2 separate regions of the Homo sapiens genome follow, and region 1 is linked to region 2. Evidence: fine-mapped expression QTL. A gene starts in region 2. The other region holds a variant in brackets. All regions are shown on one strand. Distances are between the middles of the regions.

Region 1 (8,488 bases), 180 kb before region 2:
CTTCAGGGGCAGGCAGGCCTGGCCAATCCCAGCACCACGCCTTCCTGGCCACCATGAAGGATCAGGGTGAACATACAACCAAAGCGGGCCAAGGAGTAGGCAAGGTGTGAGGTGGGGGGCCTGCAGCGGCTGGAGCCCCCCTGCACTACAGGAGACCCCCCACCAAGGATTAAAGGAGGATGAGACCACTGTCGAGCTAAGACTGGGGCTGCAGTCTCATCTGAAGGCTGTACCGGAGGCGGGTCAGCTCCCAGGCTCATTCAGGTGGTCACGGCGGGCCCCAGCTGAGCTGTTGCACACCATACCGTATGGGCCCCTCCTGGGGCCGTCACCCATGTCAGCTTTACCCCACACGGTCGCCCCTGCTCGAGGGACCCAAGAGACAACAAGAGAAGGCACCTCCCCTACAGAAGCCACAGTCTGCTTTTGATAGAATCTCAGTCCCGCCTACCGCAGGGCATGGACATTAAGAGACTGGGTCACTGGCGGCCATCACGAAGGCTGCCTGCCACTGACGGGTGTCATTTATGCCTGAAGAAGTTCCTCTCCTTGTGAAAGCCAATTCTGAGTTGTGCTCTTGTCACTTGCAGCGAAGAGAATCTGAGCCACGTGCTTCCTCCTTTGGGGGACCACAGGGACCCCAGTCAGGACACTCGCTGGCCCATGAAAGATGGCGTCTGATCTGGGGGCAGCTGATATGTTCTGGGGGCAGTTTATATGCTTCTCAGTGGGAGAAGGGCCCTGGCCAAGTCTTTGAGGAGGAGTCAAGAGTCCAGCCAGAAAGACATGCCCCAATATCAGGACCAGAGGCAGGAATGAGGCTAGTGTGTAGGACAGAGCTGCGGGAGGAGCCAGGCTGAGGCAGGCTGGGGGTGTGCAGGGAGGTCCGCTATCCTAGTGTGTGGGCTTGTGGGGAGTACCGGGAGGATGCTAGAAACCCAAGCGCCTACAGGAGCAAGGCAGGTGACAAGTCAATGAGGCAGGCTGGTTGCACGAAAAGTAAGTCCATCTTGTGTTTTCCCAGTTTTGAAGGAGAAAGGGTACAGAGGAATATTTCCCTATTAGAATAGAGTGGGGGTCGGTGATAAGGAGTGGCGAGGACTGTGGCAAACCCAGGTGCCCAGGCACAGCTGAAGGGAGCAACATCCGCCCAGTGCTGGCAGGAACAGAGGCCCAGAGCTGCTGGATCAGATTTCTCAGGTCAATCGTGAAATCTGGATTCTACAGACACCTACCTAATAGTAAACACTGGCTCAAATTGAAATCAGTTATGCAGACAAAACAACGCATCCTCCCCGTCACCACTTTATTCCAGAACCCTGGAATAAGAGCCCTGCAGTGGGCAGCCCCTTCTCCACGTCCTGCAGACTGGATCCACTCTGGCCGATCACCTCTCTCCTCCCAGATGCTGGCTTCTGTGGTTCAGCCTGGGTTCCCAGCCCGTCTTAGCAGCCAAAGTGATCTTGCTGCTGCGGCAAGACAATTTATTGAAATATTGATTTGTGTTTTTGTTCTTGCCTCGCTTTGTTCTCGGCCCAGTCCAAGAAGGCAGCCTGCCACTTTCGTTCTCCAACCCCAAGGAGGTTGTGCTGCAGGGTCCAGAGCTAAAGGGGTCTATGACCCCCTTCTGGCTTTGGGGTTCTGAGGAGACTCCCTGAGGAGGGGGCAGAGGGGAGGGCTGGGGTGCATGGGCACAGGGAGGGGAAGCTGCACTGGGGCCAGGGGAGCCCTGGGAGGCAGGACTTCAGGAGACATGAGAGTGTGCTAGACCCTGGGAGCCTGGGTCCCAGCAGGGGGTACCCCAAGAAGTAGAGGAGAGGGTTACCTCAGTGTCCGGGCACCCCAGGACTCAACCTGCCACTGGGAGCTTAACTGACAAGCCACAGAGCTGCTTGTGCTTCCTCTCTCTCTCTGCCAACGTCCCAACATCTCCAAGGTCCCAGCCTATCTCTGACGGGCACAGAGGAGCCCAGGGGCAGAGATCTTGTCCTTGCTGGGTCTGGAGCATTCAAGGGCTATGGGGTACCCATGAGGCCCAGACATTGACCTTGTGCCCAGAGGCCAGGGCAAGGTCTGTGTGCATTCTTAAAACAGCCCTTTGGGTCAGTGAGGAAGGAGTGGGGATAGAAGGGGACAGTGTGGCACTGAGATGCATGCAGGTGTGGCTGGTGCCACGTCAGGAGGGTCAGGACCTGGTGGCAGGAGCTGAGAGGCATCAGGGCTGCAGGGCGGGAGCAATGAGGCAGAGACGGCACCAGTGTCTGGCTTTGGGGATTGGTAGCAAGGCAGAAGAGGCGGCGCGGGAAGGGGACGGCAAGTGCCAGAGGAAGAGCGTGGGGTCCGCAGTGCAGGAAACATGGTCACGGCAATGTCTTTCCTGGCCAGCTTGCTCGTTGGGAAGAGCTGGGCTGTTTTGCTTTGGGAGCTCTCCCACTTCTGGGGGTGCAGCCCTTGTGGGTGATCAGTCCCAAGCCGTAGCTGGGACCCATGTTAGGCCCATGGAGCACAGGTTCGAAAGGACTGAAAACTGGCTGAAGTGGGTTTGCCTGGTGGCAGCACCCAAAACAACCATCCGCAAACTCAGGCTCATGCACCCCAGAGCCCCCTTTCCTCCACCCACTCCTCCCACTCCATGAGAGCTACAGGCAGCCTTGGGTTCTGCATGCCTCTAAGGACTCCTCACAGAAAGAAACTGATGTCCAGGCAGAGACATCGGGGCAGCTGGACAGGTCTGCGGCCCAGGAGGGAAGTCTGGGCTGGCCGTGGACAGGGCAAGGCCCTCGCTACTGGAGGCAGTCGGAACCCAAGGGAAGAGCCAAGCTCAGGTCTCTCCGCTGAGACCTCCAGCCAAGGATACTGTCCTGACATGCAGTGAACTCCCCTGTGGGTCACTTGGGCTCCAGCGGGACCACCTGCTGGGATGCGACCTCCTTTGCTCCTCTGCCACCTGGCCTGCATGCAGGAGGCCAGATGGGTCCCTGCTGCCTGGGGCACCCCAGCCCCCACCATCCTGTGCCCTTGCTATGTATCAAGCCTGGGAACTGTGCTTCCCCTGAGCGAGAAGAAGACACATTTCTCATATATGGATCTCCTCCAGAAGTGAGGGAGGCTGCACTGCTTGTTTCCACTGAGGAGTCTTTCACCAGCTCGCCCTGGTCATCTACGTCCCTCCCAGTCCTGAATGCACCTGACTTCCAGCTGCCTGCTCGGCTCTGCACGGCTCCTCTAGGAAAGTCTGTCTGTGTGACTCCACCTGTTCCTAGCTGTGCTGAGGGGGGGACCAGGAGTGAGCCGTAGCACCCTGGGCTCTGCAAAGGGGGTGGCTGCAGGACCAGCCAGGGACTTTACAGGGCAGCCAGTCCCTCCCAGGGGCAGCCGCGGGCACCCAGCCTCCAGAGCAGGGGGCGGTAGATGGTGCTGTATGACCGGGGATGGACATTTCGAGGCCCTGGGGCTGCATGGTAGCTGCAGGGTCCACCTCCTGAGTGAGGCAGGGCCTCTGAGGGCAGACTCTTCACAGCGGCAGCAGCTCCCAGAACTCCCAGGTCCAGCCTAGGGCCCCAGAAGAGCCAGGCGGGAGAAGCCTGCAGTAGGGCTGTGGATGAAGTCCAGGGGCCCATCCAGCCCAGGATGCAGGAGGAGTCCTGAGTGGGCTGACCCTAGCTCAGAGCACGGGAACAGATGAGCTTCCAAGAGGCTGATCGGATCCTCTACAGGGGCCCCAGGACAGTCGTCACCCCTCATGGAGGGCTCTGCCACCCCTGTTTGGAGGTGACATCGACCACTGCAGACATGGGCTCCCAACTGGGCTCCACTGCCCGAGTGCTCTGGGGCCCTGGACCAGGCTGGCTCTTCCAGAGTGCAGGGTCCTCCTTGGCCATCATGAGTGCCCACCTATGTCCACATGGAGACCCTCCTTGCTATGCTGGTTCACAGAGCTGCCCAGATGCAGGAGGCAGACACTCGTCCAGGCCCCTGGGGCCCTCCCACAGCAGCACCGGGAGCCTGGTCCCAAGAAGGATGGTGTTTCCTCCGGGTTCAGCCTGTTTGGCTCCCCTGGCCCGGGCTGGAAAGGGTCTGAGGACATGCCTGAAAGACCCAGGGATCCCACCATGAGGTGGAGAGGGCAGATCTGAGGGCCTTAGGGAGGCAAGAGCTTGATGGCCCTCACCTTGGGTCAGAAGGTCACTTTGCTGAATGCTCCCCAGGGCTGTCAGGAGGCTTGGCCAGGGCAAGGGTGAGGAAACACTGCGGGCCCCTGAACCTCAGGCCCAGCCTGCAGGGGTCTGGGTAACCCCACGGGCCTCAGGGAACAGCCAGGAGCTTAGGGGGCCCGTGGGCCTTGGGTGGACGAGTAGGCTGCGTCCAGCTCCAAGTCCCAGCCCCATCCTGGCCGCGGGACCCTGGCTCTGAGCTGCCCGCCGGGTCCCTCCTCCTGCGTGCGATCGGTCACCTGCCAGATGGGGCACCTACTGGGGATGTGCCTGTTGCTGTCGCTGGCCTCTGAGTCACTAAAGCCTAAGCTCCTTGAGGGCCGGGTGGTTGCTGGGCCCGAGTCTGTGCCCCAGCCCTGGCCCACGCCTGCCCTCAGTAGCCCCACTCCTCCCTTCACGGAGCAATCCCGGCTTCTGCTCTCCATGCCAGGATGA[G/C]GCAGCGAACGCGGCCAGAGGACCCCGGCTGCTGGGCGCTCAGTGATGAAGGAATGAACACGAGCACCCTCAGGAGCCAGGCTGGGCAGGGAGGGAGGCGCCGGCTGCGGGGACGTTCTCGGGAGGCCTGGGGAAGTGAGCCCAAAGGGCCGCCCCGGCAGATGCTGACCCCAGCAGGAAGTCACCGTCCGCAAGGAGCGCCCCGCTAGGCTCAGGCTTGGCACACGACACCTCGCTTCCACTTCATTTTCCTACCTTCCGGATGACGAACTGCGTCTCAGACAACTGAAAGGACTCGCCTGAGTCCCACAGCCGGAAAGAGGTCGGGGTGCTGCCCCCCGCGCGGGGCGGGCAGAGGAAGGGCCGGGCCCGAGCGGCCACCAGGTGGCGCTGCTGCCGCGAGAACAGCGGCCCGGGCCGGGGACGCACCCGGCGCCCAGACTCCGCGGCCGCACCCGGGCTCCCGGGGCCCCAGCGGCCCCAAGACAGCCTCTGGGCCTCACCCTAAATACATCAATTATGACCTGAGCAAAAAGTTCTGTTCCAATCGTTGCTCTCCGACATTTCCATTGTTTGCTCTGGAAGGAGCTGAATTATCTATGCTCTTCCCTCCTTCAGTCAAGGAGACGTGGGAGGAAACCGGGATGGGGATCAGCAGCCTGGAGGCCGCCTCCGCTGGAACCGCGCCCGCCCCGCCAGGAGGCTCTGCCTGCTGGGCAAGGCGCACTCAGCCAGCCCCGCAGGCCGCCACGCGACCGAGGCTCACCAAGTCCACTGCAGGTGGCAGGTGAGGTCACCTGGGCAGCTCTAGGCCCGGCCGAAATATCTCATCTGCTCTGTTCTTGGGCAAGTTACCTTACTTGTCCCCACCTGCAAAATGGGCACAACTGCAGCTCCGAGCTTGGAGCTGGGGGGCTTCCGCCCATGACAGTTCAGGCAGGGTGCAGTCAGCGCCCACAAATGTCCCTTGTCCTTGTCTCTGCCGTGCTGTTGATACTGATGGAGTATAACACCAGTCCCTGGGGACTGGCCTACCCGCTGGGGCTGGCTCATGCCCCCAAGGGGATGCGGCTTCAGCAAAGCTTCTCAACCGTCCCCATCCCAGAGGGGCCCTCCTGCCTCAGACCAGCCTCCTAAACAGGTGCAGGATAGGACAGCAGGGAGGTTGGGTTCTGGTGAGCAGACCACATTTCTCAACCTCAGCACTCCAGATATTTGGGGCCAGATAATTCCTGTTGGGTGAGGCGGGCACCCTGTTCATGGCAGGATGTTGAGCACACCCCTGGGCACTCCTTGCCAGAACCCAGTGGAACCCTCCCCCTAGTCGTGACAACCAAAAGTCTCTCCAGACACTGCCAAATGTCCCCCGGGTGGGGGGAGGGGTGGCAAAGTCACTCTTGGTTGGGAGCAACTGACCCTCAGGGGACCAGGACAAGGAGCCTGAAGCTGGTGCTCCTGACCAGCCGGGATCACAGAGTCCAGCCCCTCCTCCCAGAGCAGAGTGGCTCCACCAGCGTGTGGCCCCGGGCAGGCCGCTCGCCCCCTGGAGCCAGGGTCCTCACTGTCAAATGGGGATGATCACAGCGCCTACTCCACAGGGTTGCTGTGGGGGTGAGGGCATAAAGTCACATAAAGGGCTTCAGACGGTGCCTGTCCCAGAAGAAGCTCTACAAACAGTCACTTGCACGAACGCCTTTATGATTGTCGTCATTCCTGTTGTGTGCTGGGGTTTCACAGACCTCCTCTTATGGGGGAAACTAAGGCCCCATGATGTTAAATTGCTCACCAAAGGTCCCACGAGTATGGACAAAGCCAGAATGAATGGCAGGGACAAGGTCCCACCATCCCTGCTCTGTGAGCACATGTTCTACCGTGCCCCCCAGCTGAGTGCAAAGTGGGCTCCCCCAAGGCTGGAGGTCTCTTGTTCCAGGCAGGGCTTACAGATCAAATCTCATCACGACAGAGAACCACGAGAGCTGGGGCAGGAGGCGTGCACCTCATTTCTCTGCCAGAACTCCCATATCGTTCCAGCATTTTGTTTCCAGCCATCTTCCCCAAAGCCTGGGAAGCTATTCCCAGAGAGAGCCAAGCTGCCAGAACAGGATTCTCAACTTGAGCCTTCCCAGGCATGAGCCAGTGCAGGCCTGTGGGGAGGCAGAAGAGGGGCCTCCTGCTAGAATCTGAATGTTGTGTCCCCCACATTTGAAAGGTTGAAAGCTGAGAACCAATGTTATGGTATTAGGAAGTGTGGTCTTTGAGAGGTCATTAGGTCATGAGGGTGGAGTCTCCATAAATGAGATTAGCACCCTTACAAAAGAAGCCTGAGGGAGCCTGTTCACCCTTCCATCATGCGAGGGCACAGCTAGAAGGTGCCCTCTAGGAGGAATGGGTCCTTACGACACATCAGTTCTGCTGGCGTCCTGCTCTTGGACTTCCCAGCCCCCAGAACAGTGAGTAACACAATTCCATTGGTTATAAATTACTCAGTCTAAGGTATTTCTGTTATTGCAGCCCAAACAGACTAAGGCACCTCCCAAGGGCAGTGTCCAGCCTTAGTGCCTCCTAGTTCTCTGGACCCAGGTAGGTCTGGGTGAGGAGGTGGATGGAGGATGATGTGGGTGGGCCATCATGCCTTGCACCCCTATCAGGTTGGGGGTTGGGACCCAGATGCTCAGGAGGACAGGGGGCTGTCCCTGGGGTGAGGCATGGGGTGTGTTTCCCACCTCATCCCCTGTCCCAGATCCCCAGGGCCCTTGATATATCCTCCCCAGACCTTCACTTCCTGGCCTTCCTGCACCATGGCTGGGCCACTCTAAATCCTCTACCCTATAGGTGGGTGGGTGGGCACACCAAGCCCCCACCCCCAGCACCTCTCTTCTCGTGCTTTCCACTAAGAGACTCACATGCAGAATTTCTCAGACCTTTCACCTCCAATGCTGAAAAATTCCAGCAAGCATTCCACACTTTGTCTTGACCTGGTTTTTTATAACAAGACACTTTATGTCCTTCTCTGATGCTCCCCAAGTCTCTGATTTCCATTTGCTTTGATTTTCATCATCCTAGGAAATATTTAAAATGAGAACAGTTGAGTAGCTTTGGTACCTTCTCAAAAAATCAATTGAAAAGCCAGTTGCTATGCAACCTCAAGTGTTGCCGATGCTCTGCTCCCTGGCTGGTGGTATATTGTATAAAATAAGATCATCTCTTTTCTTCTGCTTTTTTTTAAGAAATGGAGAAAAATGTTGTTTTAGGAAAAACTTGAGATAACTCAGAGGCTTCTCATAAGCTAGAAGACAAACATGTCACTCAAACAAGTGCTACCAATTTTATCCCCACTGGAGCCTGGTGAGGCCTGGGGGACAGGCAATGGGGGAGCGGCAGGTGGGGAGCTGGTCTATTTCTGTCACAATTTGGGATGAATAACAGGAACCGAGTATCTGGGCCACTTTCTGCCCAAGTCTGGGTCATGGTCTCACATCCCCCAGAGTCTGTCCCCACCGTGGGGGGGACAGCTCAGCCCCCTCCTGACTGCCATCGCCTTGGTTTTGCCATGCTAAAATTCTTCTAGAGACGGGGGCCTCATTCCTTGACGGGAAGCCTGTGGTTCCTTGAAGAGCAGCTCATCAGAATTCATCCCCACCATGTGCCAAACTTTGTCCCCAGAGCCCCATCGAGAATCCCTGGCTGTGCTTCTCTGTGAGCAAAAGGGGTCTGTTCCCTTGGACACAGGAGCTAGGCCTTTTGCCCCCAGATCTTGGCTGGGAAGTCCCCATCCTGGCTGCTCCATCCATGGTCCCCTATTGCCTGCCACCCTGCTGTATTCCTTGCCGGTGCTCACC
Region 2 (8,488 bases):
CCCAGCTCCTCTTCCAACCCCAATATTCTTCCCAGCTCTGTCTGGTACATGGGACACTTCAGCAGGCCTGTCCTGCCCAGGCCAATCCACACCTGGTACCTCTGCACACGCTCCTCCCTCTGCCCGGGTTGCCAACCTGCGTCTTTTCCAGCTGGCCACTCATTCTTCCAGCCCCCATTCAAACAGCCCCCCAGGAGCACACTCTCCAAGTCCTGGCCAGAGTGTCCGTCAGCCACCCTGACGACAGGAGCCCTGGGTGGGTACCAGACCTGCCTCATTGCTGACCAGTACAGGGGATAAACATATGAGAAGGTGCTGGCTGAAAAATGAATCACCAAATGAACTGCTGAATGAATGAAACAGTGACAAGTCCTCCCCAAAATGCTCTCCATCAGGAATGCATAGTACACAGGTGTTGGCCCACCAACAGACTGCAACCCCATGTCAACTCCCACCACCTTACCTCACCCTAAGTCCGCAGCAAACATCTCCTTTCATTTAGGAAATTAACCTCCAGCGTAAAATGGGACACACCTCTGAGGCCCAGGATGTCCTCAGAGACAGTGGGCGATGTCAAGGGCTCACCATTTTAACCCAGCTCCTCCAGGGATATTTACAGTTGTTTGCAATATGGCCAAGTTCTAACTAAATCCAGCCAAAGGCAGTGATTTTCCAAAGCAACAAGTGATATTTTCTGTGTCTCCATAAAAAGAATGACAGTGGTTGCAGAGCCCTGGTGTAATTGCCGGCTCTGCAGACTGTAGGATGAGCCTCAGCTGCCCGAGTACGGGCGTGCTCAGGGGCCACGGGGGCTGGGAGAGTGGCCACTCACTCGGGGCAGGAGTTCCCTGAGTAGCAATTAGAGCGGAACCCATGGTGGGCGGCTTCAGATGTCTGGCCAGCACAGCCAGCCTGACCACCACACACCCAATCCAAAATAGAAAACTGCAGTGGCCTCTGCTGTGTGCCAGGCCCCGGGCAGCCGGACAGAGCACCGCCAATGTCAGCCTCCTCCCTCAGCATCGATCCAGGCTTCCTCTGAGGCCCCCTTGTGCTGAGCCACGGTCCCTCCTGCCCTCTCCAGGAAGCAGAGCTTCCCAGAGCTCCAGTCACAGGACTAGAGAGGCGCAGGCAGTCTCAAAAGGGATCCCCTAGCCTCTCTCTTGTCCTTCAGGCGCTGCCCCCAAAAGATCGAGCAGCTCATGGGCACTAGAGCCTTCATTTCCAAATGCACCCCTCAGCTCAAAATAGAGAAAACCAACTTTTCAAAGAACCAGCTGGAGTTCAACAGGAAACCACAGCAGAAAAACCAATGATTCCCGGTCAGCCAAGGGGCAGAGGGCTAACTGGGCATTTCAGCATCACTGCCAGCTCCCTGGGCTGGTATTACCCGCACGCAAGGAAACAGGAAGACTGACTGCCAGCCCATAAGTCCACCACACACATATCACGCCAGTATGCACAAGGACGGACACAAACTCAACAGATGCTCAACACACTGATGTGCAGAAACCCAGACACATACGTGCACAAGAGACACTGGCACACGCACATGTTCACACAGGTGCACGGGCACCCAGATGCAGGTACACACCAACGTTCCACAACACATGTGCACACACTCACAAAGGTACACACACATACACGGACCCACCCCCGGATGCAAGCCAGAGACCTGTTCAGGCAGGCAAAAGAGAGAGGCGCACGCTCCTGCCTGCTGAGCCTTTTGGAGACCCGGGCGCTCCCCATGCATAAATGGCCCCCTGCTCAGACCAGTCAAAACAACCTGCTTTCCAGCCAAGCCCTTCAGTTGGAGCACGAGGCTCACTAAAGCACGGGAAGGGCGCGGAAAGTCCTCAGCGCAGGCCTTGCCCTCCCAAGGGACTCCCAGGTAACCCTTTTCCAAAACCCAGGCGAGAGCAGCGGAGAGAAAGGAGCTAGAGAAGTGCGTACTCACCAGCCCATCGCAGTTGCTGAGCGCCACAGAGGAGGCTTCGGCTAGGCCGGCCACGTCTCCGACGTAGAGACAGCTCCCGAGCAGGGGCTCCACGCGGGTGGTGCCCTTCTCGCCCTGCCACTCCATAGTGGCCCCGGGCGCCACGAGGCGGGCGTTGGGCCGCAGCCGCAGGTGCAGGTCTCGGCCAAAGACCGTGACATTGTAGAAGAGGTGACTGCCAGGCTCCTCCTCGTTGCCTCCGGGGAAGCTCGGGGTCCGGACCGGGGCGGCCCTGCGGGCTCGTACCCCTGCTCTGGACGTAGCTGCCGACACCACGTGGGACACCAAGCGGCCCTGGGCGTCAGTGCGCACGGGCACCGCCAGGATGCGCTCCGCTCCGTGCCCCAGGGGCCCGCCTGCAACGGGAAGGGGCGTTAGATCGGCGGAGACCACGGAGCCCCAGTGCCTCAGAGACCCGCCGGCAAGCCACGCCCCCCCAGACCCCGCCCCACTGCGAAGGGAAGGGGCATTCCGCCAGGCGACCCCAGAAGCCAGCCTGCACCTCCCCGGCTTTCCTGCAACCGGGAAGGGGCGTTAACAGGGCCACCACTCCGGGGCTCCGCCACTCCCCAGCCGTTCCCTCCTCCGGAGACCTTGCCTGCCAAGAGCTCTGCCCCCTGCCCCGTTCAGGGTTGGGGCTCGGTGGGAACCTCCCCGTGCCCGAAGGGACGACCCCGTCAGAGAGTCCCCCGACCCTTGCACCTACCGTCCTTGGCAGGACGTGGAGCTGCTCGGAAGCCATTCCGGGTTGGCCCCCTTACCCGTGTGCCACGACCCCTCGGCGGGCCCCTGCCGCCCGAGTGCCCTCACCGCCAGCCTCCGGAGCGGCGGAGTCTCGGCTTCCCCGAGCACGAGCGGCCTGTCCTGCCTGTCCAGCTCCCGCTCAGCCCGCTGCCGGCCCCGTCTCCCCGAGCGCCCGAGGACTGGGAGGGGTGGAACAGGGTCCCTCCGATCTCCGGGGATTCCCTGCGGGGCGCCCCAACCAATCCTTAGGGCCCAAGGCTACGCGCTCGGCAGCCGGCTCCTCCGGAGCGTCCCCGGACGCGAGCCCCGGCGCCGCCTCGCCCTGGCTCCCCCCTCGGACCCGCTGGGGCTGACTCTGCGCTCTTGGCCGCGGGGCTTTTCCCGGCCCTCCGTCCCCACCCTCCGCGACTCAGGAGCCGCCAGTGCTCCGAGGCTCCCCCGGCCCAAGGCGCTCGGGGGCGGTGCGGGGCGCCCCCTGCGCGACCAACCCGGCCCCGAAGTTGGCCAACTTGGCCCCGGGCGGGGCGCGCGGAGTTTGCCCAAGTCAGGCTGGACGACGCCTGGGGAGGGGGCGGCGGGGCACGCGGGACAGGGCCAGGCCGGCGGGGGTCCCGGGGAGTAGGGGCCGGGCCGCACCTACCTGGGGGGTCGGCGGCGGCGGCGAGCCTGGCGTTCGCGGGCGGCGGCGGCGGCGGCAGGAGCGGCGGCGGCAGCAGCAGCAGCAGCAGCAGCAGCGCGGGGCAGAGCAGGCGGCGAGCGGCTCCCGCCGGCGGATCCATGGCAGCCGGACTGCAGCCGGGGCCCCGCACTCGCAGCCGGCGCGAAAGTTCCCCGCGAGCCGCCCAGCCCACATCTGGGGGCAGCTGGAGCCGCCCGCAGCTGCAGCACCGCAGGGCGCGGGGCGGAGGAGGCGAGGCGCGGAGGGGCGGGCGGGGGAGCGCGGAGGGAAGGCGGGGAGAGGGAAGGAGCGAGCGAGCGAGGGAGGCAGGCGGGAGGGAGGGAGGCGAGCGAGGGGGAGGGCGGGGACGGCGGGCGCCTCAGCCTGCGGTGACCCGGCGCATCTTGGCGCGGCCGCCGCCGCCGCCCGCTTCCCTCTTCGCGCCGCCGTCGCCGCGGTGCCGGGCTCGCAGCGAAGCAGAGACACCCCGAGGCGGCGGCAGAGAAGCGCCGCGGGCCGGGCCGGGGGAGCCCCGCCGCCAGCCACCCCAGGGGCACAACCTCCGAGGAGCGGCGCCGGCCGAACGTCCCCACCTAGAGAGCCCTTGGGGTGCCGGGTCCCACCCATCAGCCCTGGAATTCAAGGGGTGCATCCCCCTGTCTCTGTGCTCTGGGGCAGGACAGGGTGAGGGAATGAAAGGGGAGGGGGGACTGACTACTGGGTCCAAGGTCTGAGCCAGGCCGAATGCCCAAATAGAGGCCGCAAAGGCCAGAAGATGCTGTTAGGAGGGTACACCCAGGGCGCGACCCCAAAGATCAACTTTTGCCCTTACTGAGAGAGGCAAGGCTCCTTCAGTCCCCAGTTCCTCTTCCTCTGAAGTCCCTGTCCCCTGTCCCCCATCTGCCTTCCCATCCCTCCGCTGCAGCCTCAGCACAGCCTCTTCCTGCCAGACCTGGGCTCTCTGCCCATGAGCACAGTCAGGCTCCTGCCCTCACCTGTCCTCAACCCCACGTATGCATTCTGTCCTCCCGCCATTGCACTCCCGGCCCCCAACCTGAAATGGCCTCTCCAAGCTCTGCCTACCTTTTCCACCCAAGCATCCAAGGACACCTGGGCCCATTCTGGGGCCAGTTTGCTGTTAGAGCCCGTTGCCAACCGGAACCCCTCCCCAGTCCCTCCTCTCCAGCAAGGCCCTGATCCTCCCATGCTGTCTGAGCTCAGCGGCCTCTCTCCAGGGCCTGCCTGAGAGCCCCCTCTCAGGCTGTTGATCATCTCTGCCCTGGGACCCCCAATTTCTGCCTCACTTCCCCAGAGGGTGAACACCCACCCCTTTGATTTTCTCATTTGCCCTGCCCCAGGTCTGTGTGGCCAGGGCTTTGGTCTTTGCTTTGGCCAGGGGCAGAGGACCCGGAGATGACTCAGGCCTCTCCCTGCTGGCCAGGAGGTCCCAGTCGTTGGGGGAAACACGACTTACACAGCAGGCTCTAACTGTGATCTCACGTCCTTGGTTCTTTCGATTGTGGGTCCTGGGTGTGAGAGCATCGCAGCTGGACAGCCATCTTCACCTGCAAGCTGTACTCTTTCTGTGTCACCTAAGGGTGCCCGAGGCTGGATCCAGCTCCCAGGCATGGTGAGATGTCACATGGAAATTTAGATTGGTAACTTTTCTTGAGATATTGGAAGATGTGGCCACGCTAGCCCCACAGTCCTGCTTAGCAACCATTAAATGGGCACTTACCTTGCAGTTTGTGGCAGGTCCCGCCTCTCCTCACTCTCTGTAGGCATCTGCTCTCGTGACCTGTGATGACCCAACTGGTTCCAGAGAAAGTTGGAACTGGAATCCTAGTATACCACAGAGATGACTCCAGAGCTGGGCATCCAGGAGGACTTCCTGTAAGAGGTGGCATGAGTTGAATTGTGAAGGCTGGGGGAGCTAGGCAGCCCAGAGTTGGGTCCAGCCAGTTGCTGTCCTGGAACCCATGACGCATTCCTCCTGTGGTTGTCAGCGCTTCCATCCTCTTCGAAACACGAGTGAAACCCAACCAGCAGCCGCCCCTACTTCAAGGGGCATGTTCTGCACCTTCCTGCCGTGTCTATGGTTGGGTATTTCTTTACACAGCGCCTAAAACTTTTTTCAATTTTTTAAAGGATACTTTAAATCACTACTATAAATGGAAAAGCCAGCATCTCACCATGTTTCCATAAATCAAAGATAATTGCTAAAAATAAATACAACAAGAAGAGAAATGTTATCAAATTCCAGATACTTTGACCTGCTAAAGATACCGAAGGCTGAAGCTGATTAGTAAGTGTTACAAAAGCCTTAAGATGGACTAGCACAGAGGTCGTTGTTCTGATGTGATTGGAAGGATGAAAGGAGGCCTGAAAAGGAGTAACTCTGACTTTATGAGTTGATGGCATCTTCTAACAGGTTCACAGAGCTAAATTATTTTGTATACTTTGGGATACTTGCTTTGGGATATTTTTGGGGGAAAGAATTTGTCTCCTGGACACTGAATAACCCCAGGCAGCTGATTCTTCCCACATCACCCGTGCCCCTGCCACCAGGGATGAGTTGGGGATGGAGCAGCACCCTTGCCTGGCCCTTCCTTTAGTGCCCCCACTGTCACCCACCAGGGTGGTGGATGAACAAGGCTCACATGCACCTAACTTCACAGTTAAACCCTCAGGGAGGTGGAGGAGACTTGCAGACACATCCCAGCCCGTGATCATTTGTCCTCCACTCAGAAACAAACAGAAAAACAAAAAACAACCAAAGAACAACAACAAAAATCTTGCTACTTCTTCAAACCTCCATGATTCAAATCTTGCCTCTCCCCCCTTACTGGTGTTTGCCTCTTTCTCTGGTCCCCCTTTTCCTCTTCCAGGTAAAATACGGGACATAGAAGTCCCCAGTGGCTCTCTGCTCCTCTGCATGTTCAGTCTAGGTCCCAACGACAAAAACTAAGGGCCACTGGGCCAACGCCGCCGGATGTGTTGTTGAGCACATGCCACGTGCGTTCGTTTCTACTGGAGCCTGAATGTCTTCAGGTCTGGCTGTGCTCTCCAGCTTACCGCAGTCCTCACCACCCCCTGTTGCCCTACACCTGCCTATTGCTCGTGATTGTCAGCACCATGATCCCTGAAAACCTGGAGTTGTCACCCTCACCGAGAAGCCCAGTGTTTGTAGGGAGGAGTGAGGACAAGTCAGCGTCAGCTCGGGCCTTACACACCCAACCCCCTTAAAATCTTCCCAAAGTTGTGTGGTGCAGAAAGAGGTGAGGACCTTTCCGGGTCATCTTGGGTGCCACGAGTCACCCCACATCCCTGGCAGAAGAAACACTAAGGAGGAGGAATGTTTGTTGCCCACCACAGCTCTCAGTGGGTGGGTGCCCTGCCTTGCCCTGAGAGGAGGGTCGGGCTCCCTGGTCTGGCTCAGGCTTCCAGGTCACATTTGTCAGCACAGACTTCATTAAAGACAGGAGCCCATTTGAGAGCCACTGCTGTCTCCTAATGTCTGCACAGAAACCAGCCCCTGAGAAGGTCTCCTGCCCTTTGACAAAGTCACCTTTCTTGGCACAACCTGCCAAGCAGATGGAGGCAGTGAGGTTTCAGTGCCCTCCCTAATGACAAACAAGCTCTTAGGGGCTGTGGGAAAGGAGCTGGACTCTTTTAGTCTCACTGGTGCCTGTGTGCAGAGCGGGCCAAGCATGAGGGGCTAGTTACCTTGTCGAGGGGCCTTGAGGACAGCAGCTCTGTCCAACTTTGCTGTTGGCAAACAGCGGGTGCAGTGGTCCCATCAGATGCTCTGGCGGAGTTCTGGCCGGGAGTGGCCCTGGTGAGCCATATGTCAAGGGAATGCTGATTGAACAGAATGTGGAGGCTGGGTGGCCTCTAGGAAGTGTGGTTCTTGCTGTTTCTTGAGCGTGCCCCTCCCCGACGCCATGTACACACTTTAATAGGGAGCCGTGTCCAGCAAAAGAGGAAACGTGGGTGGTGTTTCAGTAGCAATTGTTTTTACTGCCATTGCAGCACGGAGGCATCCCCTCGCCACTGAGATCGATTCTGCCTGGAAGTGGAAGACAAAGTGCTTGAGGTTTGGAGGCTTGGGGATCAGGGCTCAGTTAACATTTCTACATGGAGATGCAAGATGGAGACTCAGACTCAGTCTAAGCATTAATGGCCCAGGGAAGGATGTAGCTTAATGCCTATCTGTGATTGTCCACTTACACATATGCTCAGCCTAGCAGAGAGAACAGAGAAAAATTTTAAAGGGGCTATCTGGGTGTGTCAGGCAGTGACGCCACTTGAGCTGGGGTCTAAATCTCTGGGTTCACCTGTGTCTGGCCCCTGTCTGGGGTCGGGGGCCATTTTGTCCAGCCCCCTCATCTGGGAAAGGCCTTTGGGTCCCTCAGGATGCTCCTGGCTGCAAGTAAGACAGCCAGCTTAAACCATGAGGAAATGCATCAGCTCACGCACCCGGAAGTCTACAGGTGTGGTGGCCACGGAGCTTAACCGCAGCACCAAGGGCCCTGCTGCCTGCCTAGCATCTTTGCCCCAACCAGGTAGAAGGATGGCCAAAGCACAGGTGCACTGCCCTCTCCCAGAAGGACCGCTGTCTCCCCTGTGGTCTGTGGGCCAAGGCTGGGTCATTTGCTGAACCAGTTGCTGACAGGCGGTGGGTGAAGGGATGACTGGGACAAACCTGGATTAACCATCGCGTCTACCCCAGTGCCCCCAGCATTGCCTTCTGTCTTTATTTCCAAATCAGAGTATTGCATAGTCCCAGGCATCCTCCTGCCTGGCAAAAGAAGTTTTTCCCATGTGACGCTATATTTGTGTCCCACTCCTATACTACACCATCTGTACAGCATGCAGAATTCCTTTCTTTTTATGTAAATCCTGTAGGTAACTAGTGAAGGGCCCAGTTCTATTACATTATGGAGATCTGTGTTCAAAGCCTTTTCTAAGCCTGTCTGGACGCTTCCTTACTTCCTAGATTTTGAGGAAAGCCATCGGTGACCCCAGCCCAGGCCTTGCTAGATCCCCAGGATCCCTGGCCTCTGGGGCTTCATTACCTTTAGGTCACC

Direction of the effects. Alleles are on the strand shown, and positions count from the first base shown. SD is a standard deviation of normalised expression in the study named.
With allele G in place of C in region 1, the expression in nucleus accumbens of the gene that starts at base 3,652 in region 2 is lower (large effect, 0.92 SD a copy in GTEx).

What was found. PIP is the estimated chance that this variant, and not a neighbour inherited with it, causes the effect.
Region 1: its variant is fine-mapped to the expression of ADAMTS2 in nucleus accumbens (GTEx, PIP above 0.99). The same link has a PIP of 0.9 or more in anterior cingulate cortex, hippocampus and putamen.

Annotation. Positions count from the first base shown.
Region 1 is chr5:179,162,249-179,170,736 of GRCh38, forward strand. All of the region lies in intron 5 of ADAMTS2 (ADAM metallopeptidase with thrombospondin type 1 motif 2), which reads right to left. Among named protein-coding and RNA genes, the nearest start is that of ZNF354C, 110 kb to the left of the region's middle. RefSeq lists an enhancer at 4,840-5,341 and a silencer at 4,955-5,164. The variant G/C (reference allele first, on the strand shown) is at 4,650.
Region 2 is chr5:179,341,810-179,350,297 of GRCh38, forward strand. ADAMTS2 (ADAM metallopeptidase with thrombospondin type 1 motif 2) reads right to left here and starts at 3,652. Exons shown (of 22, transcript NM_014244.5): 1 at 3,381-3,652; 2 at 1,958-2,352. The coding sequence starts at 3,519. LOC105377759 (a long non-coding RNA gene) reads right to left here and starts at 7,446. Exons shown (of 3, transcript XR_941311.3): 1 at 7,125-7,446; 2 at 5,137-5,289; 3 at 4,552-4,970.